Linked DNA regions of Homo sapiens. The protein of the gene in region 3 purifies or fractionates together with the protein of the main gene of each other region. This does not show direct contact. Each region holds a gene or a part of one and is shown on either strand. Other genes may lie near its edges. The genes, in order: ARFGEF3, BZW2, PACC1 and TTYH3.

Region 1 (7,500 bases), on a different chromosome or scaffold from region 3:
TGGCATTTTGAAGATGATATTTCACCAGAAGAATCTGCATATAGGACTAATTTTTTTGACATTTTAAACTAACTGAATTTGGATCTACAGGGAAAAAGTAACAATATATTTCAAGATGTTTAATATATCCAACACTAACCAATACATTTTAAGTAATCACTGTGGTTACTATGTGTGCACAATTTTGTAACACATAAAGAGAAAATTAATGAAGACATTTTGAATAGAAAAATGATATTAGTTATATTACGTCTCTGTTATAAACTTTAATAATTTCAAAAAGAGAAATTTGAAATATTGAGGAAAAAATTGATAAAAGATCTGTTTTCCAAAATCCTGAATCCATATTAAAGTTGATACTCAAAGAAGAAAGCTAATCTCTAATACTTTAATACATTGAAGAATGATTATAAGTTTATAGCCATTTTAGATTAAGATTAAAGAAGACTTTCCATTGCTAAACAGAGTTCACTGTTGTTATTAATAGCATTCACAGCAACTTATTTGTGTGAGCCAGAATTTTTAAGCAACAAAACTAAAAACATTGGAAAGAAATAGGCATCACAGAGCAAACCACTGTGATTGTCCTCATGCCCGCAACCCAGAATGAATTTAGGAACAGGCAAGTATGCCTGCTGCAGTGAATGAAATCATGCTTAGTAGTAACTATTCTAGTTAACAGTATGTACTGTTTTATACCTAAAACTGTTGTTTCAGTTTTTTAACATATCTATACATGTATGTAAACACTGGATGATAATGTAAAGCATATTTTCTACTGTGAGTTATAGAAAAAAAGTAGAAAGGTGTTTACTTTCCTTCATAGCCATCCACTGGGTTGTTTATCCGTGTGATTTCACCAGCTCTTAATCCACTGCAACCAGGCTGCAGTCATCATTTCTCCCGGGTCTGGCTTCCACGGGATCCTAACTCTCTCACATTCATTACATCATTTTCTGTGTTTATCTTTGTCCTTTCTCTGGATGTTGACCTTGTTGCCTGGATACTACTTTTATTTCATTTTTGTGCCACTTTTTTTTTTAGAATAACACTTCTGATTATAAAAGTAAAAATATTTAATGAAAAATAAACTCACCTATAAGCCCATCAAAGATAATCACTTAATATTTTGTATGTACTTTTGATAGATATGTATGTACATATATGCATGTATTTTTGAACTTATATATACATCTACATCAAATATTTAAATAAAATTGGAATCATGTAGTATACAAAAGTACATAGCATTTTACAATTTGCTTACTTAAGTATATAGTATAAGCCACTTTTCTTTTTTTTTTTCTTTCTCTGTCTTTTTTTTTTTTTTTTTTTTTTTTTTTTTTTTTTTGAGACAGTGTCTTGCTCTGTCGCCCAGGCTGGAGCGCAGTGGCGAGATCTCAGCTCACTGCAACCTCTGCCTCAGGGTTCAAGCACTTCTTGTGCCTCAGCCTCTTGAGTAGCTGGGATTACAGGCATGTGCCACCACACCCGGCTAATTTTTGTATTTTTAGTAGAGGCAGGGGGGTTCTCACCATGTTGGCCAGGCTGGTCTCCAACTCCTGACCTCAGGCGATCCACCTGCCTTGGCATCTCAAAGTGCTGGGATTACAGGTGTGAGCCACTGCCCCCGACACCACTTTTCATATTATTCAATATTTCTCTCCCACATTATTCTTTTTAAATTAAAAACAATTTTTTTTTTTAGTAGAGATGAGGTCTTGCCATGTTGCCCAGGCTGCTCTCAAACTCCTCGGCTGAACCAATCTGCCTGCCTCAGCCTCCGAAAGTGCTGGGATTACAGGCATGAGCCAACATGCCTAGTCCCCCACATTATTCTCAAAGGCTATATAATATGATGCTTTATGAATATATCATGGGTTATCTATCCATATCCTTGTTGCATATTTAGTTTTCTCTTTTTTTAGAATTGAAAGACACACTGAAATGCTTGTAGAAAGATCCTTATCCATTTCCATAATCACTTTCTTAGGATGAATTCCCAGAAGTGGAATTGTTAGGTCAAAGCTATACCTATGCCACATACACATCCAGGCTCCCTCCCTCCAGGAATGTAGTACCAAGTTACACTCTGACCAGCACCCAAGACATGAGAGGACCTTGTTGTTCAGCTCCTTCAATAACATTTAAAAAATCTCTCAGTCAATTTGATTAATAGAAAATAGCATCTTATTTAAAAGTTTGTTCTCTTTATTAGGCACTTGAACATTTTTTATAAGTTTATGGGGTCATATGTATTCTCTCCTCTGTAAACTGACTTTATATATATTGGCTTTTTTAAAAAAGAAGGAGCATTTGTTTTTTAATTCTTTGTTAAAGCTTTTTTTTTTTAACAAAGCTATTCAAACTTTATATGTCTGACATTAATATAAACATTTTCCTAGTTTGCAGCTTAAACGAAATTGTTTTTAATTGTAAAACTAGTAAATACTTTAAAATAGATTCAAAAATATAAATCCACATATAATTAAGATTTAGAGGTATCATCTTTTCTTCCTTCAATCCATCCCTCAGAGTATCATTTGCTTTTTAATTTTGTATGAAACTTTTGGCATAAAGGTCTTAAATATTCAAATAGTCAAATCTATTGACCTTTTTTCCTTCAGTTTCTGCCTTAGTTTGTTAGAAATAATCTTAATGCATTAAGATAAGTATATTCACTTATGCTTTCTTCTAAACTTTTCATCATTTAATTCTTAAATTTAATTTTTAATACATTTGTAATTTATTTTGCTACACGATATAAAGTTGTGATCTATATATTTTTCCAAATAGTTAACAATTTTCTTTAACCCAAGTACATTATCTGCTGCGGCGTTTTTACTTTTTTTTTTTTAAACCTTTCTTTAAATGATGGCTTCACTGGGCGTGAGGGTAGCGGTAGAAGCATCCTTGGGGGCTGGGACTTTGTAGGTTTTGCCTCCTCAGTACCAAGAGCGCCGAAGGAGTAGTCTGACATCCCCATGTGTTGGACACCCTCCAATGGCAGTCCCTCCCCTGGCTGACCCCCTACACCTCGGATTTCGGACTGCTCCTCTCAGCCTCCTCCCTGGGCCCTTGCTCCTGTACCCATGATTTGAGAATTAGGGGGGCCGTCACTCCCTCTCTTGTGCAACCTTTGTCAAACTCGAGGCATCAACAACTCCTATATTTACCACCCTTCAAATACTGGCATCCCTCCCAGAGCTCTATCCTGAGTTCCTGTCCATAAAAAAAATCTACAAGTATCTCATTATCATTTCAATCTGAACATGTTCAAAACTGAACTCATATATCCCCCCTAATCCAAACCCTTTTTATCTTCTCTTCTTTAAAGAATGGGGCCACCATCCTCCCAATTTCCTAAACAAGTAACCTGGAAGCCATCCCATATACACCGTCTCTCCCCTATTGTGTCATTAAATCCTATTGTTTCTACCCTTCAATATCTCTTGACATACTTTCCTTTATTCCCCTTCTACCCACCCTTGGCCTAATTGGTTTCTAGATTCCTGCAGAACCTTTGTTCTCCCAGCTGCCAGTCTGCCCCTCTGCAGTCCATCATCCTCACTTCCACCACAGGAACATTTTCAAAGAAAAAGGAAACACGGGGTGCCCTGTCACACTGCCTTCCCCACCGCCCGCGTGAGTCTCCTGGGGCTCCCCCTTTTCACCCCAATGAGAAGCCCTCTGCTGCGGCGGCCCTTGTGCACCACATTTTTCACAGGGCAGCAATTCAGCGCAAGAGAGGATGGGAAGGGGAGGAGATAGGGGTTTTTAGAAGGGGCTTTGGATTCAGGACGTGTTTGGAGTCTAACTCTTGTTGGTCTGGGAAGTAACCCAGCCTCTCTGGGCCTGGTTTCCTTGGGCATATCAAGCTCTACCCCAGCCCCACCGCAGCCCACCGCCCGCCGCGTGTTGAAAGCTTGACTGGAGTTTCCCTGCAGGCAGGGGCACAGTGTGTGCAACGCTGCATCGCCCGAGCCTGGCACAGGGAGTGGCCCAAAAAAGCTGTTAGTGACTGAACGCAAGAATTTTCCGGTTAGCAGACGACGGGATGCAGCGGGCGCGGCGCCTGCACCACGCTGGGGGTCCCGGTGTCCGGGCTGGGCCGCTCCGACTCCGCCCGCGGCCACCGTCGGCTCAGGGGGTGCGAAGACCGCGGCGAGGCCCCTCCCCGCCTGCCTCCCGCCGCCCGCCGCGGACCAGGCGCTCCCTCCCGGCGGCTGGCGAGCCAGCTCCGGACATCCGTCCCCACCTTTCCGCTAAGCGCGGCGCCCGCGGGGCCTGCCTCGGCGGTCAGGTCAGCGGCCTCCAGCCTCACTCTCCGGCCCCAGCCCGCAGCCGCCGCCGAGCGGAGCGCACCTGACCCAGGCGGGCGGGGCGGGGCGGCGGGCGGGGCGCGGGGCTGACGTGGCCCGCGGCATGGAGCGGGCGTGATTCATCAGCATCCGCGCCGGGGCGGCATGGGGGCGCGCGCGGCGGCCGCCTAGGCGCCCAGGGCCAGGCAGCGGCGGCTTCCCCGGCCCGGCTCGCCCGCGCTTCTCTCCCTGTGGGCGGCGGCCCGGCGCCTGGAAGGTCAAGATGGAAGAAATCCTGAGGAAGCTGCAGAAGGAGGCGTCCGGGAGCAAGTACAAAGCCATCAAGGAGAGCTGCACCTGGGCCCTGGGTAAGCGTCCGGCACCTGCTCGCCGCGGCGGGAGGGCCGCGCGGCCGGGGCTGAACCCGCGCCTCCGCGCGTGGGGCTTTCGCGGAGCGTCGGTCATGGGTGCCGTTCTGGCGATTGCGAGAGTCGCCTCGGGAAATTGATGTGGGATTTGAGAGTCTTGGCTCGGGCGTGGACATCAGCCGCCTCCCCTCCGGTCTCTTTCACTCTCCGAAACCTTCCTCGGGAACCGCTGTCCTCCCTGCCTGGCGGCCCCCTTCTCCTGGTCCCGGCGCTGGGGACGATGCTTCCCCATCGCCGAGTTAGGCAGGACCCGGAGCCGGTGCGAATCCTGGGGCCTGACAGCGAAGCGCCTCTGGGGAAAAGGGAAGTTAAACCAACAACCCCGATGTCGAATCCTTGGCGAGTGGAACCAGGAAGGAAAGGCTTGTTTAATTTGATTTTCCTGATAGAGGTCAGCTTGCTTAGTGTTAGCTTTCCTGGTTATTGCACATGAAAAATAACATACGGGCGGGGATCATGTTACCTCTGCAATTCTGTTGTGGTCTGCCCTTCAGACAGGTGGGATTTTAGGGCTGTGAGCTGTGCTAGCGTTGAAGTAAGTTCCAGGGAGCAAATTTGTGTTTCTCATCAGACTCAGGTTGCAGAACTCAGCAGCGGAAAAAAACGGAAAGACATTTCAGTTAGGCGGGGTTTGGGCAATCAAAATGGTCAGGATGGTAATGCAAATAGATCAGAAGCATACTTTGGGTGATGGTGATGCTTTTTAGAAAGGAAAGGCCAAGAAGAAGCCAGCGCAGCTAGCTCTATGGGCTCCTCTCTCTGCCTTGCTGGAGCCTGATGTGATGCCTCAGTTGCCACTCAATTGAAAAATGAAATTGACTCCCTTTCCCTTGCAACCAAGAACCATCACTGTCTGTCATGACACTGTGTGTGCTTTGATGCAGCCTGAGATAGAGAAGAGCCTTTAGCAGGTTTTCCACTAAATGTAAAATTTTGAGAGTGGTTTAGGTGACTCTTAATATGTAGATGGTCTTAATTCACATATGTTTGGGTGTGTGTACAGGTAATTATAGCAGCATCTTTTTTTAAACCTGTGCCTATCATCACAAAATTGTCTAGAATATTGTCTAGGAAGTTTGTCTTGTAGGTAGAACCAGCACTTGACCATTCTAGCTTACTGTTAAAGAAAAATGGACCAGAAATCTGAGAGAACAGCAAGGCTCTTAAAGCCACAGTACTATTTTTGCCGTTGCCATTGTCATTCAGCAGCGTGATTCGAAGCTAGATTCCAAAATGCCTCTAATGAAGGGTCACAGATGGCTGGGTAACATGATAAAGCAGGGCCCAATTGTGCTTTAAACATGCCATTCCTAGTATTCGTTATTATTTTGCTGCAAATTAAGCAGATTTAGATAAACAGGGAGGAGGAGATTAATCTAGTATTTTAATAAGTTTAAATACTGACATCAACATCTTATTAAGTGAAACCACAACGTTGCTGAGTTTAGGTCCTTTAAAGCCACTGGGGAGGCTGAGCATTGAGGCAGGTAAATTTTTCGAGTCAAATCTGAAAGAAACCAGCCTGAGTGGATGTACTTCCTTTCCCAGTGATTGTTCTGTCATTAGCAAGACAAGACAGAAGTGCATGAAATAGTTAAATAATAGTGCAGGGCATTCATTGTGCAGTTGGATTGGGCAAACCAGGAAAACAAGTCAAAGAAGGGAGGATAAATGTGTTGTCCATGGATTGGGGGAGAATTGGTGTGAGCTGGTGGGGCTTTTGAAGTAGATTTCACTTGAAGAATGGGGAAGCTATGGGTTCCTTCTTTCCGTCGCTTCTTTATTTAGGAAACATTTATTAAGACCTCCCTGGTAATGAGCAATGGGATATATGGATGAATAAAATGTTCCCTGTAAGGAATTTGTTAGAAGGGCATGCTGGAGACATGAACAAAGGCCTATAGGGATAGGTTTTCCTGTTGCCTTTCCCACTCCAGTCCATTTCCACTGCCCGTCACTGTTTAGATTACAAAACACCTGTCACTCTTCAACCCCCCAATTTATTTCTAGATTAATGTGTAAATTCCTCAGAATGCTCTTCAGAATCTAGCCCCAGCCTCTGTTCTTGTCACTCCCCAACCAAGATTCAACAATCTAGTGGCAGTCAGCTGCAGCACTTTGTTGAACATGCTGTGTGGCACACTTCTCTCTTTGCCTTTGCTCTTGCTAGTCCTTCTGTAGGGAATTCCCTTTTCAGACTTGGCAAGGTCCATCTTGTTTAGGAAACATTCCCTGAGCTCCTCAATAGGATAAGTTGTTTGTCTGGGTTCAGATCCTTGCCTTGATGACTCTCTTAGAGTACCTACTATTTTGGATAATAGTTGATTGTGTGCACAGGTAGGCTCTTACGGGCAGTGTAATTGACAAATATGTTGGGTGCAAGAGACAAAAAAGCTAGTTTAAGCTGAGCTATACAAAACGGGATTTATTTACTCCTTTAACTAAAATACCCCTTACAAGAATAGCTGTGATTTAGGAATTAGACACTGTTTCAGGGATCTTGTCCTGCTCTTTGTGGGTTGACTGACATGCTCTGCGTGGGTCTCCACAGTTTTGGGCTCATGAATCAACACATTTAGACCATCTCATGAAAAGAGGCAACAATAAACTTAGACCATCTCAGGAAAACACGTCTCATCCCCCACTTAGACCATCATGTGATGGGGAGGTCAACCGCTACTTAGGTCATCATGGGAAAGGGGGGTTACCTCTCACGTAGACCCTCATGAGAGAGGGGTCATCCCCCACTTAGACCCTCATAGGAGCAAGGG
Region 2 (7,285 bases), on a different chromosome or scaffold from region 3:
ATAACTTAGAAATCAAACTGAATTCAACTCAGCTTGTACTGAGCATACACTAGGTGCAAGACACTGGGTTAAACCTGAGAAACAAAGATAAATTTGACCTAGTTAATGTATACTGTAGAATGAGAAGGGACCAAACAGATTAATAATAACTATAATAGAATGCGATGAGAAAGTGCTTGTTTTAGGTATTTTCATGGAGATTCAGATGAAGAAGCAATGATGTCAATTTAGGGGGGCGGTAAAAGAGGGGTCGCTAGAATCCATAAGAAGAGAGAATTAAAGGCTGCCAGCAATGATACCAGTAGCCATGTTGCATATCAATATCCTCCATGTACAAAGATTTTACTTATAACCCTTGCCAAGAGACATGAATAAATGTATTTACTAGCATGTATATTTCCCTTACTGGATAGAGAGGGAGAGATGAACACAAAAGCTGAAGAAAAGAGGTTTTGTTTAAATTGTGTCTGGAAAGTTGAATAGTTCATCAGATCTGGAGAGGAGATTCAGTGAAAAGGGAAGGGAAATCATTCAGAGGAGGAGAAAAGCAGGAACAAAGGGGTGGAAATTACCGGCAGGTTGGGGAACAAGCAGAGTGGTGACCTTAGAGCCCAGTGTGTGGGAGGGCCCAGATGACTGGAAATGCCTGCTGAGACCATGGATGGATTGGAACCTTCCAGGCCAGACCCAGCCCTCTATTCTGTGGCCAGCAGAGAGCCATTCAAAGAATGATGGGTGCTCAATGTTTATTGAACTGGTAGTTCCCTGAATTAGCTAGATGGAGACAGGTGAGAGAGAAGCAGGCTACTTAAGATGCATTGCAATAGCTCTAGAGTGGTAGATATGAGAGGACACATACAACATTTCAAACATTTCAGAAATCATTATTCCAATTCTGACTTGACACTTCCTAATATGGGATTGTGGGCAAATTATTTCCCTTACTTTCTGTCCTCTTATTTGCAAAGTGGGTATAATATTGGCTCATTCCTGGGTTGTCATAACACTAGAATAATTCTATGCAAAGCATCTGGTAGAATATCTAGCACAGACTAAATACTCAATATGAAGTAGCTATCTTATTATCAATAAAACTTCTTTGATGTGAATCTGTTTTAATATGCTCATTATCTAATCTTATCCCTACATTAAATATTTACACCATACAAAACTACTAATGTAATCAATCCATCTAATGAACAGTACCCATTATGAATCTGTTTCTAGAAATGTAAACTGAACATGATTTATTTGCATTTCTAGGTAGATGTTAGATTCTCTTTCAACGTTATTGTCTCTAAATTCACTGGTCATGTATTCAGAGAGCACTAAATACCAACCAAGTGTCATAAGGCATCAAGAAAATAGATAGTAAGCTGCTATCCTCGAGGAACTGACAACCCCAGTGAGACAAACAGGTGTGACCTTCAAGTAACCATGGCCCAGATTTGGCACAAGAGATGGAAATACTAGCAATGAAGTACCCAATTATGTGTATGCATCTGCTGGTAAGATGCTAAATCACATGTTCCAGGAGGTTACCACTCAACTGTTTTTTTAGGTTTGTGGGTTTCTTCCGCATGATACTATGTTATAAATCAATTGTAACTCTGAACTAACAGCATTACAAAAGATTGGTCACTCTCAGGAGCCTTACTACTTGCTTGAACAGCCACATCATTATTAAAGCATCATCCAACAAAAGTATCTTTGTTATACACTGAGATGAATAATTTCAAACCATTTTCATGTAAGATGTTCTGGCTCAGATCTGTCCCAGTCTTTAATGCTGAAGCTTTAGGGGGGAAAAACAGCTGGAGTTTAGGAAAGATTTTTGCTAAAGGCAGGAAATAATGATAAACATATTCCAGGAGATTTCAGATGTTAGTGAAAGCTTCACGCAAAATAAATGCCTAAGGCCAGAGGAAAATGCATTTCGCTTTTCGTATGGCGCTATGAGAAGAAACAGTGGTCCTGGGGATGCTTAACAAAAACCACCTACATAATTACTCAAATATTTCTCTTTGACACATACACGTCTCTTTGACACACATATTGAGAGAAACATCAATACTACTCTGTAGGGAAACAACAGTAAAACATAAACACTAATTTCCAAAGAAACTTTCATTGATGATGTAAATATAAATCTGCACCCTGGAGAAATGACTGATTCCCGCATTTTAGCAAGCAAATCTTATTCTGAAATACACACTTGTATTTACCCCCATCTACCTATGGTCGAAGCTCCAGGCTACATATTACAGTTGAATGAAGGTTGGATTAAGAGGCTAATCTAAGGCTATATATAGGCAGCAACACCAATTTAATCTCCGCCCTCTCCAACCTCCCCACCCTCCACTCCCTATTTCCATAAATCTCAAGATCTGAGTTACAAAGAGAACCGAGAACTCTAGCAGAGCAAAGAAGCCCTTCCTTCCCCCTCCCACAGGCTGTCTCTCATAAACGAAGTATTAGTGCAAGTGTAAATTGTTTCCAAACATCTTTAACAAGCAACATTGGGCGATCAGGTTTTCTTCTACAGCTTCCACAGAGGCCAAAGAGATGACAAGTAGTGGGGAGGGCGAGGATCACCAGCGTAAAAACTACCTTCTCCCGAGTCTGTTCTCACTGACTCGCTAGTAATGGGGCGCTGTCCTTGCGACCCCTACCTAGCCCAGAGCCCCGGCCCCAGCCTCCCCGGGAGCCGCATCTGGCGGTGCCACGCACGAGACCATGTGCACCCGCCACTTCCCACCGCGTGGCTGGCCCCCGCCCGCCCGCCCGCGGTCCCAGGGTCTCCCGAGGCGGCCAAACGTTGCGAGTCGGAGGTCTTCATCCCAGGGCACTGATACCCCGTACGCGCCGTGATGATGAGGTGGAGCGGGGGCTTCTCCACCGCGAGGCAGGAAGCCGCCCCAGGAGGCACATGCTTCCTCCCCGCCAGCTCCTGCCCGATGGAAACCCCGGCGGGGCGGCAGTCGCTACTCTCGCAACCCTCACGGCGCCCCTTGCCTCACCTGGGCTGCTTCTCACCTGTCCGAGGAGGTAGCGACGACGCGCAAGGCTGGGGGCTGCGGCGATTCGTGCAGCAGCAGCGGCAGCAGCAGCAGCAGCAGCAGTGGCGGCAGACAATGGAGGAGTGAAGGACAGACACATTGACATAGACACACGGAACCCGGCGCAGCCCCGCCTCCCGTACCGCCCCCGTCTCCTAGACCGCCCCCGCCCAGACTGCGCCACTCCCGGGGGAATGGTGGGGGTACGGCGACAACCTGGGGCCTCTGCATGCCCCAGAAAGCCGTCGCTGAGCACATAACTGCCAGCTGTAGAATTTTCAATATTACATGTGGCGAAATATTTGAACCGGACAGGATAGGGGAGCGGAACGTGTAGGAGGAATTTAATTCCCCCCTCCAGCTTTCTGCATTTGGTTTTGTCCTCCCAGGTTGCTCCAATGGCGATCTCTCGCTACCGCCTCCTGCGGCTCCTCCTCCTCGGCAGGGCCAATGACAGGCGGCAGGCGGTGACCGCCGCAGGGCCTGCGGAGACCGTCCGCCTGGCTCGCCCGAGCTCGCCCGCTGTCCGCCAGCCCGCGGGAGGGAGGAGAGAAGCGAAGCGTTTCCGCGGTTGGCTACTCAGTGTCTTGGTCTCAAGTTGCCTCATTGCGGCTGGCGTTCCCAATACAGACGCATCGTTTCTTTTTTAATACTCCCTAAGAAAGGGAATAACCTTCAAGCTGGCGGGAGCAATGGTTCACATAAAGAAAGGCGAGCTGACCCAGGAGGAGAAGGAGCTACTGGAAGTCATCGGGAAAGGTACGGGTGCTGGGCTGCGACGCGGCCGCGGCCAGCCTGGCCGGGGGGCGTGGCGGAGCCCGGGGGGCGCTCCTGGCCTGGGTGACCTTTGGCTGCGGTTCTGCAAGGTTTGCAGCCTGGAACCGGGAAAGAGCGTTTCTCCCTTTGGTCTGGGAAAGGTTGCAGGGGCGGAGAGGTGGGGAGGCAGAAGCAGTGCTGGGACAAGAGGGGTAGTTACAGAGGCTCGGCCTCTAAATCCGCTTTTGGAAACGTACGGATTTCCACGCCCCGCCTTAGGTTAATGCGAGCTTCCCGGGGTGTGGACCCCAGTGTGTGAATTCTTCACTGCTCCCGAGGGATTTTGACCGCGGTCAGTCCTGGTAGTTTCAGGTTCTTAGGCGGGTGTCTAAATGACCCTTTAGACTTCCGCAGGCCGAATGATCTGGATCCTTTGCCGATCCCCGCCCCCGCTTGGGAGTGGAGGGCGCCCTTAGGGAGAGGGGTTCTTCATAAGGGTACAGAACTAGGTCTGTAATTTGCTGCATTGAGACTTCCGTATCCAGGGCCTCCCTGGCTTCCAGAAGCCCCGACAGCCTCAGGAACCCTAGAGAGACAAGGAAATTGGCGAGGCCTCCACACCCACCCCTCGGCCCACGTTGCACAGATGAGACCTTCTAATCGCGCTCCTTCGCGCTTTCTTGTCCACTCCCCCAAGGCGTGCCCCACTTCCGCAGTGCTGAGTCCCAGCGGGGAGCCCCGAGGACGAGCCAGAAGCCATATTTCCCCGGAGTCCCCGAGTGGACGTCCCAGAGGAGTTCCCTGCCGAGTCCCGTTACCTGGCAGGTGACATCAGCGTGACTGCATGCTTCTTCTGCACCCTCACGGTGCAGGGATGGTGATGCGTGCGACTCCGGGCAATTAATGTGGTGATTTTAAACTCAATAATAATATAGCCATGTTTGTCCTCGAATGGCAGAGATGCCAGTCATTGCAGCATAAGGCTTCCCAGTTTCCAGTTTTATTTACTTAGTAGCCAGGCTGAAATGTGGAATCCTAGAGAATAAGGCAGATTTATTCTTCATAGCGACAAGGAAACTCCACATGCGAAGGAGAAAAAATTCCGGTTTGAACTCAACAGGTGCTGATGAGCTGAGCCCACCCGATCTGATCTCAACTATTCTAAGTCAGTCACAGCTATATCTATCAATGATGTGTTCTTTGCCTGGAATTTGGGGATTTGGGTTAGAGTTTAGATTGTTGTACTGCATGGTTCTTGCTGACCTATTTGGCATTTCAGTCTTTCAGTTCTTCCTGTCTCTAGGTAATTTCTCCCTGCCTTTGATGGCTCTGGGATTCAATTAAGCAAACATGCAAGTTCTAGCTGTGTGCCAGGTACTGTGCTGGGCAAAAAGGAGACAAAGGATCAATTCACAATCCACCAGGGACAAAAATTCTTTTAGGCAGGACAGAGCTAGTACATGTCCTCTCTCTCTCTCGCTCTCGCTGTCTCTTTCTCTCTCTCTCTCGTTTGTTTGAGACAGGATCTCACTCTTCACCCAGGCTGGAGTTGCAGCTCTCTGCAGCCTCCACCTCCCTAGTGGCTGGGACTACAGGTGCGAGCCACCATGCCCGGCTACTTTAGAAAGATTTTTTTTTTTTTTTTGTAGAGATGGGGTGGTGGGGGTCTCCCTATGTTGCCCAGGCTGCTCTCGAACTCCTGGGCTCAAGTGATCCTCCTGCCTCGGCCTCCCTAAGTGCTGGGATTACAGGCATGAGCCACTGGGCCTGGCCCATCATGTGATCTCTTAAAAGTGAAAAATAGTGAGCAGTTTTATAAATTGAGTCTTTGAGAGGGGAGAAGGGATTCCTTGGATACATTCTCAGGTGTCCATCAGTATTTATTTTGAAGATTATATAAACCTGAATTAATGTGCATTTATTCTGGTTAGTGCTGTGATATTTCTGGGCTCACACGGTGCATCAAGTTGCATGAGTGCACTGATGCTTTCATCGCTTTCATTGGACCATGCCAATGAGAAAAGAACTGATGTGGACCTAGTATGTGATGCATTCTTGTCAAATGAAGGTCTGTGGGACATCACTTGCACTCATAAAGAAAAGTAATGGGAGATATGAGAAAAACAACCATAGCCAACGTTTATTGACTGTTATTGCAAGCCACACATAATTTTAAGTACTTTACATATATTAATGCATTTAATTTGGATGAGCTAGGAATTAATTTTAAGCTATGACAGTATGAGAGACAGCATGGGATAGTGGTTAACCATGCAGGTCTGGTTTGAAATTCTAACTCATTTACTGGTGATGTGGCCTTTGGGCAAGTGACTTTTCCTGAGCCTCAAGTCCTCTGTGTGAAAAATAGGAATAATAATAATACCCACCTCACAACGTTGTTATGGGGATGAAAGTAGTTAGTATAGTTAAAGCATTCGAAATACTGCTTGTGTTTGTGATAAATATAGTAATCTTCACTTTATAGGCAAGGCAACTGAGGAACTGGGAAGTTAGGAAACTTAGTGTCAAACAGGTAAGTGGCAGAAAGTGGCAGAGCAGAGGTATCACAGGGCCCATAGGTAATAAACAGGCTGTACCTAAAAACAAACTAAACAAAACATGAAACAGTACCATAGCAGTCCATACAATATTCACTTTGAGAGGTCATTTAGTTCTAGCAAAACAACATCTGTCAAGTTAACTCAGTTTTAAATGTTACTGATTTTGTAGTTCTGTGTGCATTAAATTTAAAGTAAATTTTTATTTTATAGTTGAAGAAAGGCCATAAGCAAAGTTTATATTTGTGCCAAAAAGAGGCATTTTTTTTAAAGTGGGTGAAGTGAGTTTTTTTTTTTTTCTTTCATACGTTTTTCAACTTTGAAAAACTCTAGATGAGACAATAAGTTCTAGTACTTTGAACTAACAACTTTTCAGCAAAGTCTAGCCTGGCATCTTGGTCAATCTGAAATAAACTCGGCAAATATTTAAGTGATTCCCATCTGCCAGCCACTGCTCTCCAGAAAGACAGACTCTAAGTGGGGCTTTTTATTTATTAGAATGCCAAGAAGTTCCAGATGAAAATGAAAATCTGTTTCCAACATACCCATTTAAATCATAGTTAATGACAGCATTCATTTAACAGTATGTAAGAGGAAATTGAAATCACTGAACTGTGTTTAACTGGCTTATATGACTTGTAGAGTTACCCATTCTTCTAAGCTTTGATACCTTTTTCATTAATCTCAGAGCAAGCACTATTATGAAATAAATTAAACCTTTTTTAAGGCTATGAGCTAGATAATTTTCACATTACTTCTCTTATTTAGTACCTGAAATTCCTGGGCTTACTGTTGCTAACAAGAAAGTATTATACTTCCTTTTTTTTTTTCATATCTGTGTAAAGGAGCTATGAAACAAGTTTGGATAATAAGGCTTTTTCTTACCAACTATTGAGATACAATAAATTGCAC
Region 3 (7,427 bases):
CTGTCTGATCGTTCCTCTGGAGGTTTTGTCTCAGAAGGGTACCTGGCCGTGTGAGATGTCAGTCTGCCCCTACTTGGGGGTGCCTCCCAGATAGGCTACTCAGGGTTCAGGGACCCACTTGAGGAGGCAGTCTGTCTGTTCTCAGATCTCAAACCCTGTGCTAGGAGAACCACTACTCTCTTCAAAGCTGTCAGACAGGGACATTTAAATCTACAGAGGTTTCTGCTGCCTTTTGTTCGGCTATGCCCTGCCCCCAGAGGTGGAGCCTACAGAGGCAGGCAGGCCTCCTTGAGCTGCGGTGGGCTCCACCCAGTTCGAGCTTCCCGGCCGCTTTGTTTACCTACTCAAGCCTCAGCCATGGCAGGTGCCCCTCCCCCAGCCTCACTGCCGCCTTGCAGTTGGATCTCAGACTGCTGTGCTAGCAATGAGCGAGGCTCCGTGGGTGTGGGACCCTCTGAGCCAGGCGCGGGATATAATCTCCTGGTGTGCCATTTGCTAAGACCATTGGAAAAGCACGGTATTAGGGTGGGAGTGGCCCGATTTTCCAGGTGCCATCTGTCACAGCTTTGCTTGGCTATGAAAGGGAATTCCCTGACCCTTTCTGCTTCCCGGGTGAGGCGATGCCTCACCCTGCTTCAGCTCACACTCGGTGCGCTGCACCCACTGTCCTGCACCCACTGTATGACAAGCCCCAGTGATACGAACCCAGTACCTCAGTTGGAAATGCAGAAATCACCCATCTTCTGCATCTCTCTCGCTGGGAGCTGTAGACTGGAGCTGTTCCTATTCAGCCATCTTAGAACCCAATATCAATAGTCTTTTTTTTTTTTTTTTTTCTTTTTGAGATGGAGTTTTGCTCTTGTTTCCTAGGCTGGAGTGCAATGGCGTGATCTCAACTCACTGCAACCTCCGCCTCCCGGGTTCAAGCGATTCTCCTGCCTCAGCCTCCTGAGTAGCTGGGATTATAGGCATGCACCACCACGCCCAGCTCATTTTTGTATTTTTAGTAGAGACGGGGTTTCACCACATTGGCCAGGATGGTTTCGATCTCTTGACCTTGTGATCCGCCTGCCTCAGCCTCCCAAAGTGCTGGGATTACAGGGGTGAACCACCACACCCCCGGCCTCAGATATTTTTTGTGACCCATTTTCTGTCTCCAGTTACATGTCACTACACTGCTAGATACTGTAACAATTTTCCGGGCTCCATTTGGTTTTTTTTTTCCTTCAATATTTTCTTCAAATTGGATAGTTTCTGTTGATTTAACTTTGAGTTCACAAACTCTTTCTCTGCCATCTTTTGCTATTAAGCCTATACAGTGAACTTTTTATTTCATTTATTTCTTGTCAGATCTGGAATTTCCATCTGTTTTTTTAAATTTTATGAAACATTTTTACAGTGGTTAGATACACGTAATGTAAAACTCATCATCTTACTCATTAAAATGTAGAGTTCAGTGATATTAAGCACTTTCATATTGCTGTGCAACCATCACCACCATCCATCTCCACAATGCTTTTTCATCCTGCAAAACTGAAATTCTATATATTTGGCCATTGTTATTAGTTTCTGTTTCTCTATTGATCTTGTCTTTATTCCTTATTCAGATATTTTCCTTTAAGTGCTGTAAATTTTCTCTCTGCTAAATTGCAACACTGGGTCATCTTGGTGTTGGTTTCTATAGATTGCTTTTTTCTTGAGTACAGGTCACATTTTCTTGTTTCTTAGCATGTCTAGTGATTTTTGATTGAACACTGGACATTATGAATGATATAGAGATTCTGGATTCTGTTATGATCTTCAGAAGGGTATTTTTTTTTCTTGGCATATTGTTAATATGGCAAGATTTAAGCTCTAAACTCCTATCTCCCCTGCATTAGCCGTAGTTGAAATCTCCATGCAGTTCTTTCAATTTCCAGTTGTTACTTTTTGCTGGCCCCCCCTGGGTTCTCCAGCCAAGGATCTGAACATATATTTAGTTGCAGATTTGGGAGTTTCACCCCCTGTGTGGCTCCCTCCCTTTCATGGTTTTGTCTTAACTTTCTGGCTGCTCTTCCAGCCCTGAACTTTGTCCCTGTCACTCTGAACCATGCCTTATAGGGATTGGCATGTATTCTTAGGCAAAAAGCTACAGATGTATAAATCTCACCAAGTACAGTTCTTCTCTTTCAAGGGTAGCCTCTCTTTCAATTTCTACCTGCTTTTGATCATTCTCCCAGTGCCTTCAAATAATTTAAAATATGTTGTCCAAAGTTTATAATTGTTTTCTGTGGAAGGGTGATGTGACACTGCTACTCTGTCACTGTTGGAAGCCAGATGCCAAGCAGATACCTTTTGGGGCTTACGTTCAGATGCTTCCCTTGTTCTCAGCCTTGTGCTCAGCTGGGCTGTGGAGGAAATAGGACTTCTTCTCAGGGAGCTCCATTTTCAGCTGAGGAGCAGAGAGGGCACAGGGAGCCCTGTGGGAGTATCTTAGTCAGCTCAGACTGCTGTAACAAAATGCCACAGTTGAGTGGCATAAACAACAGAAATTTATTTCTCACAGTTCTGGAAGCGAGAATCCAATATCAAGGTGCCAGCAGGATTGAATTCTGGTGAGGCCTTTCTCCTTGGCTTGCAGATGGCTGCCTTCTCATTGTGTCCTCACATGGCCTTTTTTCCTGTGTGCATGTGCTCCTAGTGTCTCCTCCTCTTATAAGGATTCTGGTCCTATTGGATCAGGCCTCATCCTTATGGCCACATTTAACCTTAATTATATCCTTGAAGTCCCTGTCTCTAAATATACTCACATTGAGGGTTAGGGCTTCAACCTGAATTTGAGGGTGGGGGATACAGTTTCGTCCATAACAGAGATTAATCTAGCTTCTAGCCTCAGGATTTTGTGAGGGAGGTAGGGGAGACAGAGTTGTGTTGTACCAATAGCATCAGGACGTGTTCAATCAGTCACCATGTAAATGCAGAATGTTCCAGGCATAGCATGAAGGGCTAAGGATTCAGTTAGGGATAAGACTGGCCCCATCCCTGCCCTCATGGAACTCACAGCCTAGGAGGATAAAAGATGTATAGACATGACATTGCAGAGTGATGAAGTAGGGGACGTACAGGGCTCCCTGGGAACACTGAGGAAGAGGTGCCCAAATAAAGGTTAGGGGTCAGGAGAGGCTTCCTCAAGAAAATGTCTTTCTTTCTTTTTTCTTTTTTTTTTTTTTTTGAGATGGAGTTTCGCTCTTGTTGCCCAGGCTGGAGTGCAATGGAGTAATCTCGGCTCACTGCAACCTCCGCCTCCTGGGTTCAAGCAATTCTCCTGCCTCAGCCTCTTGAGTAGCTGGGATTACAGGCATGCGCCACCACGCCCAGCTAATTTTGTATTTTTAGTAGAGACAGGGGTTTCACCATGTTGGTCAGGCTGGTCTCGAACTCCCGACCTCAGGTGATCCTCCTGCCTCGGCCTCCCAAAGTGCTGGGATTACAGGCTTGAGCCACTGCGCCTGGCCAAGAAAATGTCTTTCTAAATTAAAATGCTTCCATGGAAGGATGGCGTGACCAAGCTACTCTGTCACTGTTGGAAGCCAGATGCCAAGCAAAAAGCTTTCGGGGCTTAGGATGAGTGAAGCATCAGCTGTGGAAGAAAAGAAAATCAAGCAGAGGGAATGGTAAGTGTGAGGGAATCCCGGGTTGAGAAGGGCACTCCAGAAGAACAGAAAGTCGATGAGTAGAGGTGGAGCTAGAGCTGGGAGAACTGGGGAAGTGGAGCAGTGAGGGATAAGGCCAGAGAGGTAGGTTGGGGCCAGCTCACTTGTTGGATTGTAACTGCCTATCCCTCTAGAGAGTAAACTCCTTTTTTCTGTTCTTTTTGTTTGTTTTTTGCTTTTTCTTTTAACATTTTTATCGTTTTTTATCTTTTATCTTTTTTCTTTTGAGAGTAAACTCCTTAAAGACAATGAATAAGTCTCCTTCAGCTTGGTGTCCTCTACCTGGCAGAGAAGCTGTGTAGTAAATGTTTACAGGTGCCCTTTGTTATGATTTGTGGGGTGAGGTGGAAAGGTTGGGCGTGCAGGTGACTTCACCTCCTTGGTGAGGCAGGCAAGGGCCTGGAGGTTGCTGGCCATCTCTGTCTGTACCTTGTCCCTGTGCCCTGGGTCACATGGTGTTTTGTTGTTGTCAGGCCTGGACAGCGAGTCCGCCTCCAGCAGCATCCGCTTCAGCAAGGCCTGCCTGAAGAACGTCTTCTCGGTCCTACTCATCTTCATCTACCTGCTGCTCATGGCTGTGGCCGTCTTCCTGGTCTACCGGACCATCACAGACTTTCGTGAGAAACTCAAGCACCCTGTCATGTCTGTGTCTTACAAGGAAGTGGATCGCTATGATGCCCCAGGTAGAGCCTGCCCCTGGGCCAGGCATCAGGGCCCCAGATCTAGGGTGTCAGCTGGCAGATACTCCCTGAGCTGCCGTTGTATTTGTGGTACTACGGGCAGGGCAGAGGAGTCCAACCAAGCATAGTCTAGGTATAGAGTCTATGCCCAAGGAGCTGCTGTTGGGAGTGTGTTACGTGCTGAGGACAGAAATGGACAGAGCCTGGAGCAGCTACTGCAGGCTACTAGAGGGGTCAGGGAAAGCTTGGCAGAGAGGTAGGATTTGAGATGGGCCTCGAAAAGCACATAGATGGGAAGAGAGTGTCTTTGGGATGGGGATCAGCAGAGCGAAGGGGTGTCTAGGGAGGCAGAGGGCTTCTCTGGAGAGGATGAGACTAACTTGGCTGGGGCCAGAGGGCAGGGATGAGGAGAAGCAGGAGTCAAGGCTGGACTGTGGGGTGGGGAGGATGGCAGGGGAGGCGAGGCCATTCAACCCTGCCTGGAGAGGGACTCCCAGGCCACACTGGGTATACCTGTCTCACTGGGGTGTCTGGTCCCTGAGTGGGGAGTCCACTCTGCTATAGAGCAAGCTATCTGCTCTGGGCTGCAGGGCTGGCACTGGATGTTCTAGGGGCTGTAGAGTAAATGAGGAGGCATGAGCTGTGTGACTTGGGCCCTGTCCACCCAGTGTGTGCCACCTGTTCTGCCCACAGATGCCCCTGAGTAACCTGTGGGAGGGCCTGCTCACATGGCAGAGCCAGAGTCCGGGTGCCCTCTCTCTGGGGCTTCCTGCCAGCCTCCAGCAGAGTCAGGTGTGCTGGTCATGGCTCCTCTGCCCATCTCTTCCTGTCTTGTGTTTGTCCCTCTTCTCTGTGTGTCTGCTTGAGTCTTCTTTATCTGTACGTTTTACTTTCTCTGTCTGGTGTCTTAGTGTCTCTGAAGTCTGTCTGTCTCTGATGCCATGTGCTGCTGTCTTAGCATTGCTGCCCTTGAGGCTGGACAGCTACTGTCAGTAGAGGTGCCTGGGCTGGGAAGAGGGAGGGACTCTTGGGATGTGACTTGCACACTTGGGGCTCCCAGTCTAAGAGACAAAATGAGTTCTGAGGAGTTCCACAGTTTAGAGCCTCCCAGTGATTCTGCAGGTGGGTGTTGGCCCAGAGGGGTGGCACAGGGGCTGAGTCAAGAGACACTCCTTCGGAGGGTGTGGAGCGGGGCTCTGAGGTGGAGTGGGTTTTGATGTGGGCATCAGGGCGGCTGGATCCCAGGTTGGCCAGGGGCTTACTGAGGAGGGGCTTGTGCCCTCTGCTACAGCGGGGCTTTCTGAGGCCAGGGGATGTGGCTCCTCACCCTCTGAAACCCTTTTCTTCTCCCTTCCCTGCAGTCCTCCAGGGAGTCCAGAACGTAGGTTGTTGGTAGGTGTGAGATGATTTCAGGGATGTGGTCAGGAGTGTGATTTCTGACACTTGCTTTTCCTGTTTGTGCCCCCAGGTATTGCCTTGTACCCCGGTCAGGCCCAGTTGCTCAGCTGTAAGCACCATTACGAGGTCATTCCTCCTCTGACAAGCCCTGGCCAGCCGGGTGACATGAATTGCACCACCCAGAGGATCAACTACACGGACCCCTTCTCCAATCAGACTGTGGTAATTCCTGTCTGCCTGAGCTGGGTCTGGGCAGCTGCTCTGTTAGCCCCGCAACCCAAGGCCCCAAGTTTCCTTTTTCCTAGGAGTCCTTCTTCCACTCACTCAGTGTGGGGCCTTAGTCCCCAAGGAGACATGCGGCTGTGCCATGTGGACACTTGGCTGTGGTTGGCTCACTTGCATTCAGGGAGGACAGTGAGGCCTCCAGCCTTTGCTGAGTAATGCTCAGGGATTCCTGACAGTGCGGTGAGACCCTGTCCCCAATGGAAGAATGGCAGGGCTAAAGGGTGGGGCTGGTGCGATATAGCGAAGTGGGTCCCATACCTGACCACTTGACAGAATTGCCAGGATACTTTTTGAAAATATGAATTTCTAGGTTCCATGTGAAGCCAACTGAATTATAATTCCTTAGGTGGGGCCTGAGAATCCATAGTTTGAAATTAATACGCCAGCGTAAAGGAGCGTCGGTCTGGGGACAAGGACTCCTGGGCCCTGGGCTGGCCATGCTGTCGTGCACAACACAGCACGGCTGGGAAGGATGACTGAGGGATGGGGTTAGGAGCGCCCTGGAGGAGTGGCACTGCACAGGGTTTCAAAGACAGGGTAGGCGTTTTGTATTGATTTACATCTCATCTTTTTCATTTCATATTCTTGCTTCAGAAAGCATTGAAAGGGGCTACAATAGTTTTCCAGATGAAATTGGGAAGGAAAGGTTTTCTAGGCAGAGGAAATTGCACCATGACCTAAAGGGAAGAGACGACATGTTGTACTTGTGCCTCTGGGCACAATTGCAGTTGGTGGGGAAATGTTTCATAGGGTCAGGAGCCCTGGAAGACTGATGGGTGATGAAGCTGTGGACAGAGTAATGGCCAGATGAGAAAAGAACATGCATCGTGCTGTAGAGCCACACTTGCTCCCTTGGGTAACAGGGAACTGTTAGTGGGTTTTAAGATGAAAGAATAACACTAATTTTTTTTTTGTTAGTATGTGAACGCTAGGCCCCCTCCTAAAATCCTGCTAAAATGATTCTCTAAGGAATGAGATAGAACAGACTAGAACATCAATAATAGCTTTGCACGTGAAGAAAGGATATCACCAGTGGACCAGACATTTTGAGGAACTGGTATAAAGCATAAAAAACAGCTTGGGCCAGATTGGTGGAGCAAACAAATTAGAGCAAATCCCTAACCCAAAACAGATGAAGGAGAGACCTGTTGTAGAGGTACAAGCTTTCCTTCCAAACCCCCAGCTTGGAATCAGCACCGTTAGAGAGCAGGGTAGTCATTACTGGACTGCCTGTTGGCTGGGCCAGACACACCCTATACCCTCCCCAGGTATGCAGAGCCGCTGGGGATGGTTGCCTCTGGGTAAAAGACCCTGGAACCATTCTCTACAGAAGCGAAGGGAAGATGATTCTTTGTGTAGGCATAGGAAACAG
Region 4 (7,729 bases), on a different chromosome or scaffold from region 3:
AGCTGCAGGGCCACCAGGGAGTCTCAGGCCTCCTGTGGGCCTCCAAATCCCTCCTGTGAACAACAGCCCCCCATTCACTCAGATGCTCAGGCAGCACGGGAGCCCCTCTCGACAGTCACTGGCTGGGGAGCTGCACAGAGCCGACCCCAGATGCCCCTCCACCCCCTGCCCTCTCACAGCTCCCTCAGCCCCCATCAGCTTCTAATCCCACGGTCACACCCCCAGCGGCAAGGCAGCCGTGGGGGAATCCGGGGAGCCTGCGACTCCAGGCTGACCCCGGCTCCTCGGGGGGCCGGACGAGGGACCTACAGCAGGGCTGCGGCCCCACCACTTACTCACTATGTGATTCGGAGCCTCAGTTTGCTAATCTGTACAATGGACAACTCTCCCCACCTCCTGGGGCTGTGGGAAAAGTGACTAGTGACAGGCAGTCCCACGCAGGGCCTTGAAACAGGACCTGGCCCTGGTCCCTCCGGGGGTTTCACCAGGGTTCCCAACAGCAGACCACGGGGGCCAGAAATAGCAAAGGACAAAGGCCAGTCCCCCGTGCCACACCCCCAACTCCCAACCCCAGGCCCCACCTCCCCTCCATCCCCCCGCCCCCATAACCACGGGGCAGATGCCCACTCCCCAGCAGGGCACAGCCCAGGTTGGGGCAGCACAGAGACAGCTAAGAGGGAGCCCTCAGTCAGGATGGGTGAGGGGTCCACCCCCCACTACAGCCAGCAACTCCTCACCAGGGGAGGCAGGAAGGGGCGCCTGCCACAGCCCAGGCCCACCCACTGCCCATTCTCCCAGGAAGGGGGCTCCTGGCCCTTGCCTCCCAGGGGTGACCCTACACAGGAGGCACGGCCAGCCCAGATTCAGGATGAGGCAATGAAGGCTCAGAGACACCAAGCAGTTGCCGAAAAGCACCAGTATTGGAAGGGCAGGGGCAGGACGCACGCCAGGACCAGCTCACGCCACAGCCCCTCGCCAAGAGCCGGGAGTGGAGGCGGCGGGGGATGGAGGCAGGCCGGTTTCCACATCGTGAATTATTCAGTGGCTAATTCTGCTCTGTGGAGATGAGGCAGGAGAGAGAGTGAGTCAGAGCCCTCCCACAGCAGAGCAGAGCGCAGGGCAGGGGAGGAAAGGGGGCAGAAGCCAGGGCCTCCCAGGGCCATAGCACCCTGCTGGAGGCCAGGCAGGTCAGGCTGAGCAGAGGGGCCTGGCTACTGCCCGGAGGCTCTTGTGGGCTGCAGACATCATCGCCCCTCACTCCCTCTCACTGCCTGTCTCGAATGTGGGAATGCAGGCACCCCGGAGGGCTGGAAGGAAGTCCAACTGTGGCTGGCAGCTCGGGCAGGTGGCAGCCCAAGGGGCAGCAGGAAACAGCCGCCCCCCACGCCCCAGGGCTGCCCCGGAGCTTAAGAACTGACAAATGGGCCAAACCCTCAGGGCAGAGAACTTTCCAAAGTGAAGCACACCCTCCTTGCAGCTTCAACAGAGTCCTCCAGGGACAAGTGGCAAAGCCATCAGCATGGAATAAGTTCCAGAAGTTCCTGAATGTGCATTGCCCCCACACTGAACGGTCCCCCAGGGCTGGGCTTCTAGAACGCAGGCGTGAGATTTTATACCAATCCTTCCGCCTCCCTCCTCCCTGCTGTGTCTGGGCGTGCCTGGGCCGATCCCTCGCCCCCTTCCTCATCTGTTAGGAAACGTCATCGGCTCGGCTGGGGGGCCTGGGTGCAAGTGAGCGCGAGGCTGGGAGCAGTGGGCTCCCAGGTGCCCTGCTCCTCCACTTCCGCCTCCCTCCTCTGGATGCGGGAGGCCACAGACAACGCAGTTCTGAAGAGTCCAGGTGCTAGGCTGCCCGCGGAATACCGGATTCCCAAGCCATTTTGATAAGCAAAGCCATCCCCACCCCACCATGGGGCTCTGCCATGATCCGTCCAGAGAGAAACTCCGGGTGACCAGGGACCCTGGTCACGGGGCTTCTGGAATCCGGATCTCTAGGCAGGAAGGAAATGCCCACAGCTTGGTCCCCTGCCCCGCACTCAAATGACAGTAGCTTGGCGATGGGGGTGGTGCTGGGGCCTGGCATGATGCCAGGCTAAGGGCTCCCCTGGGAGAGGGCTGCAAAGGGCCCCCAGCCGCCCCCCAGGTCTGCCTGGGCTCAGCCGCTTCCAGCCTCCCTGCCTGAGGCCCACGGTGCTTCCTGGCCGCCGGGCCTCCCTCCCCCGGGGGCTACAGGCAGCCTGGTCTCCCACGGCCACACACGGCACCCTGTGTACATCCCACAGCCTGACCGCCAAGCAGGGGGTCATTACCGGCCACAGAGGGCTGGCGGCGGCCCAGGCCATTCACCCACTGGAAGCCTGGCAGTGGGATTCCCCAGTCGGGGGTGAGTGGGCGAGGAGTCTCTGCCTGCCTGCACCCAATGTGCTCAGGCACCCGCTCTGATCTCAGAGCCTGGGGGTCATCTGGGGAGGGGTCTCTGCTGGGACACAGCACCAGGCCGCCAACAGTGATGGTGGAGAGGCCCTCCACTGGCCAAGGGGGCTCACGGAGTGGGGAGAGGCAGCTCCATGAAACCCAGGGGCCTTAGTGACACCAGAAGGGAAGGCCAGAATCGGGAGGGGGGCCGTGGACCCTCACTGGGGGTTGGAGGGTATTTAGACCTTTGAGGAGGAGGCCATGACCCTGGAAGAAAGGGTCCTAGGACTCAGAAGGGACCCTCGAGAAGGAAGGAGGCCGGTACCTGCGAGGAGGAGGTGGCCGTGACCCTGGAGGGGGGGATGAGGGGTCTTTAGGCCCTCGGGGATGGGGGCCGTGACCCTGGGAGAGGAGGGGGCCGTGACCTGGGGTCCCTGACCCCGCGACCCCGAGAGGCCCATGTCACCTGCTGGTAGTCGGTGTCCTCGGGCCGGAACTGGCTGCTAGTGGCCTCCCAGCTCAGGTCGAAGTGGGGCAGCCGGTGCAGGAGGCTCACCCACCAGGGCGCCGCGTAGCTGACCCCGGCCATGGCGGGGCCCGGCCGCCTCCGGATGCGCGCGGCCTGCGCGGGGCTCCCTTGCTGGCCCGGGGCGCGGGCTTCAGGGACCCGTCGACCCCCGCCTGGCCGCCCGCATCATCCGCGCGCTCCTGGGCCCGGCCCGGCCCGGCTCGGCCCGGCTCGGCTGCGCTCGGCTCCGCTCGGCCGCCCGCGCCCGCCGCCTCTTTGTTCGCCGCCGCCGCCGCCGCCCCCTCCGCACCCCCGCCCGTCCGCCCGCCGGCCCCGCCCCCGAGCCTCCATTGGCCCGCCTCCCGCCAGCCCAGCCCCCGCGCGCCCCGCCCTCTGTCCCGCCTCTTACCCACCATTGGTCTATCCCCCGCCGATCCCGCCCCACAGCGTGCCCCGCCCACTCGCTCCTGAACCTCTATTGGTCCTTTTACCTGATGGTTTTGCCCCTCCACTCGCATCCCCGCCCATTACCCAATGGCCCCGCCCCTCCACGTGTCCCCGCCCTTCGGCCCCGCCTCTGTACCGTCATTAGTCCGCCGGCAGAAGCTCCGCCTACTTCCTCGCCTTCTTGGAGGGACGCCTGGCCCCTAAGGCGCTGGAAGACCGACCCTCAGCGCTGTAAGACCCGGGCCAGCCAGTCTTTCCACGTGGCCGTGGGGGCTGGAACCCTGGCTGCATATGCAGCTGCGCTTCATTCCATGAATTCGCTCTTCGTTTGGATCTTTGCATGTTTCTTATTTGACTCGAGGGTCCGGCCTGGTGGGCTGGGCTGGTCTTGGCCTCCCCATTGCACACACAACAGCCCACAGCCCGCAGCGCCCAGCAAGGCACCGAGTGGCCTATCTGTACAATGGACATGATCTGGATTCAGGGCCTGGCTGGGGCACCTAGAGCTGTGTGATCTGGGGCAAGTTACTTAACCACTCTGTGCATCGGTGTCCTTGTCTGTAAAAGGGGATGATAAAGCTACGAGTGTTGGCAGGGCGTGGTGGTGGTTCATGCCTGTAATCCCAGCACTTTGGGAGGCCGAGGCAGGCGGATCACCTGAGGTCAGGAGTTCGAGACCAGCCTGGCCAAAATGGTGAAACCCCGTCTCTACTAAAAATACAAAAATTAGCCAGGCGTGGTGGCGGGCGCCTGTAATCCCAGTTACTCTGGAAGCTGAGGGAGGAGAATTGCTTGGACCTGCGAGATGGAGGTTGCGGTGAGTGGAGATTGCGCCACTGCACTCCAACCTGGGCAACAGAGTGAGACTCCATCTCAAAAATAAAAAAAATTTTTTTTAAAAAGGTACGAGTGTTAAGTGGATCCGCAGGTAGATTCAGTCCCCATCCGGCCTTCCCTCTGGGGAAGGTTGAGTCTTTTGTCAAGACCTAAGATGAAGACGGTGCCCTGTTCTGGTGTCCTGGGGCCTAAAAATTCAGGCACCTGCCAGAGAGGGCCCATCATGGGCTTTGGAGCCACACAGCCAAATTTCCTAACAGGGCCTCCCCATGCCTGTGCCTCCTCCTTTGCTAAAGGGGAGATGGGAGCTGCCAGAGCCAGGAGGATGGACATAGTGCGTGCTTGGGCCCAGGTGCACGCCTCCCTCCGCACTCTAGGGCAGTGGGTGCATCCTGGCTCTGCTTCATCACCTGGGGCCTTATTCCTGGACCTCCTGTGTACTGAGAAACAGGTTTCCACACCCGGGCTCCACCATCTGCTGTGCCCGACTTGGCCAGCTCTGTGGGCAGGCAGGCCGTTCCTGGCAGGAAGAGCTCTTTGCAGGCAGGGACGGTTCCGGGCAGTGTCTTCCCAGGAGGCCTGGACTTTGGCTCATTGACTGCCCTGACTCGCCTGTTTTCCTGTGATAGGGCACCGGGCAAGAGGGACTAGCTGAGCTGCGGTTTCCACCCGCTGGATAACTTGGAGACACCACCCAGCTGGGAAATAACAGCCAGGCAGAAGGGGGGAGGTCGCATTCTCCATCCCTAAAGGCCGAAGAGCCAGAAATTTGGGGTGGGGTGGGGATACTGGCTCAGGTTCCTCTCTCTCCAATGCCAAGGATGGTGGGAGCTCCAGGCAGAATGAAGCCCCCCCCAACCCCCTAAGACCAAGGCTACCTACTTGGAGTGGGCTGGTACCTGGCCAGGTGAGTCCTCTTCTTTGGCGCCAGCTGATTGCTCACTGTGAACAGGTGGCTTAGGCAGGACGCCCACTCCTAGCCTGACACTGCTCCAGCATCCAGCCTGTGACCTCATCTCCACAGCCAGGGGATCGCCTGCACGGCCCGTGCCCTGGGCTGACTCTGACCTCAGAGTTCTGTGTCGCATAACTCCAGGGATGAACAGGGCAGTCCCTGGCCAGCTGCAGAAATTGTCCTCATGGCCTGAGATCGTTTCTGGTTCCTGCTGTTAGCAGCAGCTCCCATGGCCACAAACAGACCTCCTGCTTCCCCCCACCACAACTCCAGTGCCCTCCACACCAGCCTGGCAGCCCTGCCAGGGTACACACATGCAGGCAGGGGGTACAGGAGTTCCTTCCCCTGTTTCCAGAAGCCTGGCAAAATTGTACCTTTCCTTTTGATAAAGCCAGAAAGTCTGATGCAGACATGATGTGAGATGATAACTTAGGGTCAGGCACAGTGGCTCACGCCTGTAATCCCCACACTTTGGGAGACCGAGGCAGGGGAGATCGCCTGAGGTCAGGAGTTCGAGACCAGCCTGGGCAAATGGTGAAACCCCGTCTCTACAAAAAAATACAAAAATTAGCCAGGCATGGTGGCACATGCCTGTAATCCCAGCTACTCGGGAGGCTGAGGCAGGAGAATCGCTTGAACCCGGGAGGTGGAGGGTGCAGTGAGCCGAGATTGCGCCATTGCACTCCAGCCTGGGTGACAGAGCGAACTCCATCTCAAAAAAAAAAAAAAAAAGAAAGAAAGAAATGATAACTCAGGTGTAGTGGATTGAATTATGTTCCCCAAAAAGATATGTTCAAGTCCTAACTCCTGGCACCTGTGAACGTCACCTTCTTTGAAGAAAGGGGCCGGGAGCAGTGGCTCATACCTGAAATCCGAGCACTTTGGGAGGCCAAGGCAGGAGGACCGCTTGAGGCCATGAGTTTGAGACCAGCCTGGACAACATAGTGAGACCCTTCTCTACAAAAAAATTTAATCAGCTGGGTGTGGTGGCTTGTGCCACCACAGTAGTTCCAGCTACTTGGGAGGCTAAGGCGGGAGGATCACTTGATCCTAGGAGATCTAGGCTGCAGTGAGCTATGATCGTGCCACCGCACTCCAGCCTGGGTGACAGGCTCATGCCTGTAATCCCAACACTTTAGGAGGCTGAGGCGGGCGGATCACCTGAGGTTGGGAGTTCCAGACCACTTTGACCAACATGGAGAAACCCTGTCTCTACTAAGATTACAAAATTAGCTGGGCGTGGTGCCATGCACCTGTAATCCTAGCTACTCAGGAGGCTGAGGCAGGAGAACAGCTTAAACCCGGGGGGACGGAGGTTGCAGTGAGCCGAGATCACGCCATTGCACCCCAGCCTGGGCAACAAGAGTGAAACTCCATTTCAAAAAAATAATAAATAAATGAGAGTCTTTGCAAATGTAATCCAGTGAAGATGAGGTCATACTGGGTTAAAGTGTTCTCTAATGCAAAGATGGTGTCCTTATAAGAAAAGATAAATTTGGACACAGACTCAGAGATACAGAGACACAGAGGGAAGCACCCGTGTGAACACGGAGGCAGAATCTCAGGGATGCCGCCACAGCCCTGAACGCCGAGGGGCCACCAGAAGCTGGCAGAGAAGCCTGGGGCGCTCCCTCCCTCAGAGCGCCCCGCCTCAATCTCAGCCTTCTGGCCTCCAGAACCGTGAGACAATGCATGTCTGTGTTTGAAGCCACTCAGTTTGTGGAGCTTTGTCACGGCAAATCCAGAAACAAACACACCGGCTTTCTCAGAGCTTCCTGGTGGCCAGCGCCCTGTGCCTCTGATGGTATGGGATGAAAAGGTACTGATGACTGAGTAATATTTGCAGTGTGTTTGGGCCATGAAATCTATTCCTAAGGGGCCTGTGGAGGAAGAATTTGGTAAAAGGGATCCAGGGTGGAGAGAATAAGGGGCCCACAGTGAAGGTTCTGGAAGAACACAGCCAGAGTCCCTACCTCACCCCCGTGCAATGCTGCTTGGGATCCGGGTGTTGAAGAGAAACTCCGTGGGTCCCTCCCTCCAGCTGCCAGGAAGGGTAAAGGAGAGAAGGCCAGAGAGAGGATCTAGTGTGGGCCAGGGCATGGAGGAAGCTCCGCCCACCATCCCACCTGCTTTGACCCGACAGTCACTGCCCAGAGCTGTGTGGTTCTTCCCATCTGTCCTGCAACCACTGTGGCTGGAGGCTGGACTTTAGTCCCACTCTACAGACGGAGCAACTGAGGCCCGGTCCCCGCCATTGCATGGGAGGCCTTGAGAATCACAAGCTGGTCAGGGAACCAGGGTTCAGCCTAGTTCCAGGGGCCCTTCCTCCCTCCCCACTTCTTCCCTCCCTCCCTCCTTCTGTCCTCCCTCCCTTCTCTCCTTCCCTCCTGCCTTCCCTCCCTTTCTCTCCTTTCTCCCTCCCCCCACCTTCCTTTCCTCTCTCCTTCCTCCTCCCTCCCTCGTTTCCTCCCTCCCTCTCTCCTTCCCTCCCTTCCACCTTCCTTCCCTCCATCTTTTCCTCCCTCCCTCCATCTTTTCCTCCCTCCCTCCTTCCTTCTTTCCCCTCT

What was found.
Region 1: the proteins of PACC1 (region 3) and ARFGEF3 purify together in Homo sapiens (co-immunoprecipitation; 3 studies listed by BioGRID and IntAct, with this or other methods). This does not show direct contact.
Region 2: the proteins of PACC1 (region 3) and BZW2 purify together in Homo sapiens (co-immunoprecipitation; 3 studies listed by BioGRID and IntAct, with this or other methods). This does not show direct contact.
Region 4: the proteins of PACC1 (region 3) and TTYH3 purify together in Homo sapiens (co-immunoprecipitation; 3 studies listed by BioGRID and IntAct, with this or other methods). This does not show direct contact.

Annotation. Positions count from the first base shown.
Region 1 is NC_000006.12:138,157,503-138,165,002, forward strand, and holds the start of ARFGEF3 (brefeldin A-inhibited guanine nucleotide-exchange protein 3), read left to right. Parts: upstream 1-4,436; 5' UTR 4,437-4,584; coding exon 4,585-4,669; intron 4,670-7,500. UniProt on the Homo sapiens protein: Participates in the regulation of systemic glucose homeostasis, where it negatively regulates insulin granule biogenesis in pancreatic islet beta cells. Also regulates glucagon granule production in pancreatic alpha cells.
Region 2 is NC_000007.14:16,642,040-16,649,324, reverse strand, and holds the start of BZW2 (eIF5-mimic protein 1), read right to left. Parts: upstream 3,145-7,285; 5' UTR 3,037-3,144; exon of another isoform or gene 3,021-3,036; intron 1-3,020. Other genes in the region: ANKMY2 (ankyrin repeat and MYND domain-containing protein 2), read left to right, coding at 3,752-3,818. UniProt on the Homo sapiens protein: Translation initiation regulator which represses non-AUG initiated translation and repeat-associated non-AUG (RAN) initiated translation by acting as a competitive inhibitor of eukaryotic translation initiation factor 5 (EIF5) function.
Region 3 is NC_000001.11:212,383,839-212,391,265, reverse strand, and holds part of PACC1 (proton-activated chloride channel), read left to right. Parts: intron 1-4,165; coding exon 4,166-4,375; intron 4,376-5,840; coding exon 5,841-5,992; intron 5,993-7,427. UniProt on the Homo sapiens protein: Chloride channel gated by pH that facilitates the entry of chloride ions into cells upon exposure to extracellular acidic pH. Involved in acidosis-induced cell death by mediating chloride influx and subsequent cell swelling.
Region 4 is NC_000007.14:2,627,431-2,635,159, reverse strand, and holds the start of TTYH3 (protein tweety homolog 3), read right to left. Parts: upstream 3,175-7,729; 5' UTR 3,005-3,174; coding exon 2,882-3,004; intron 1-2,881. UniProt on the Homo sapiens protein: Calcium-independent, swelling-dependent volume-regulated anion channel (VRAC-swell) which plays a pivotal role in the process of regulatory volume decrease (RVD) in the brain through the efflux of anions like chloride and organic osmolytes like glutamate.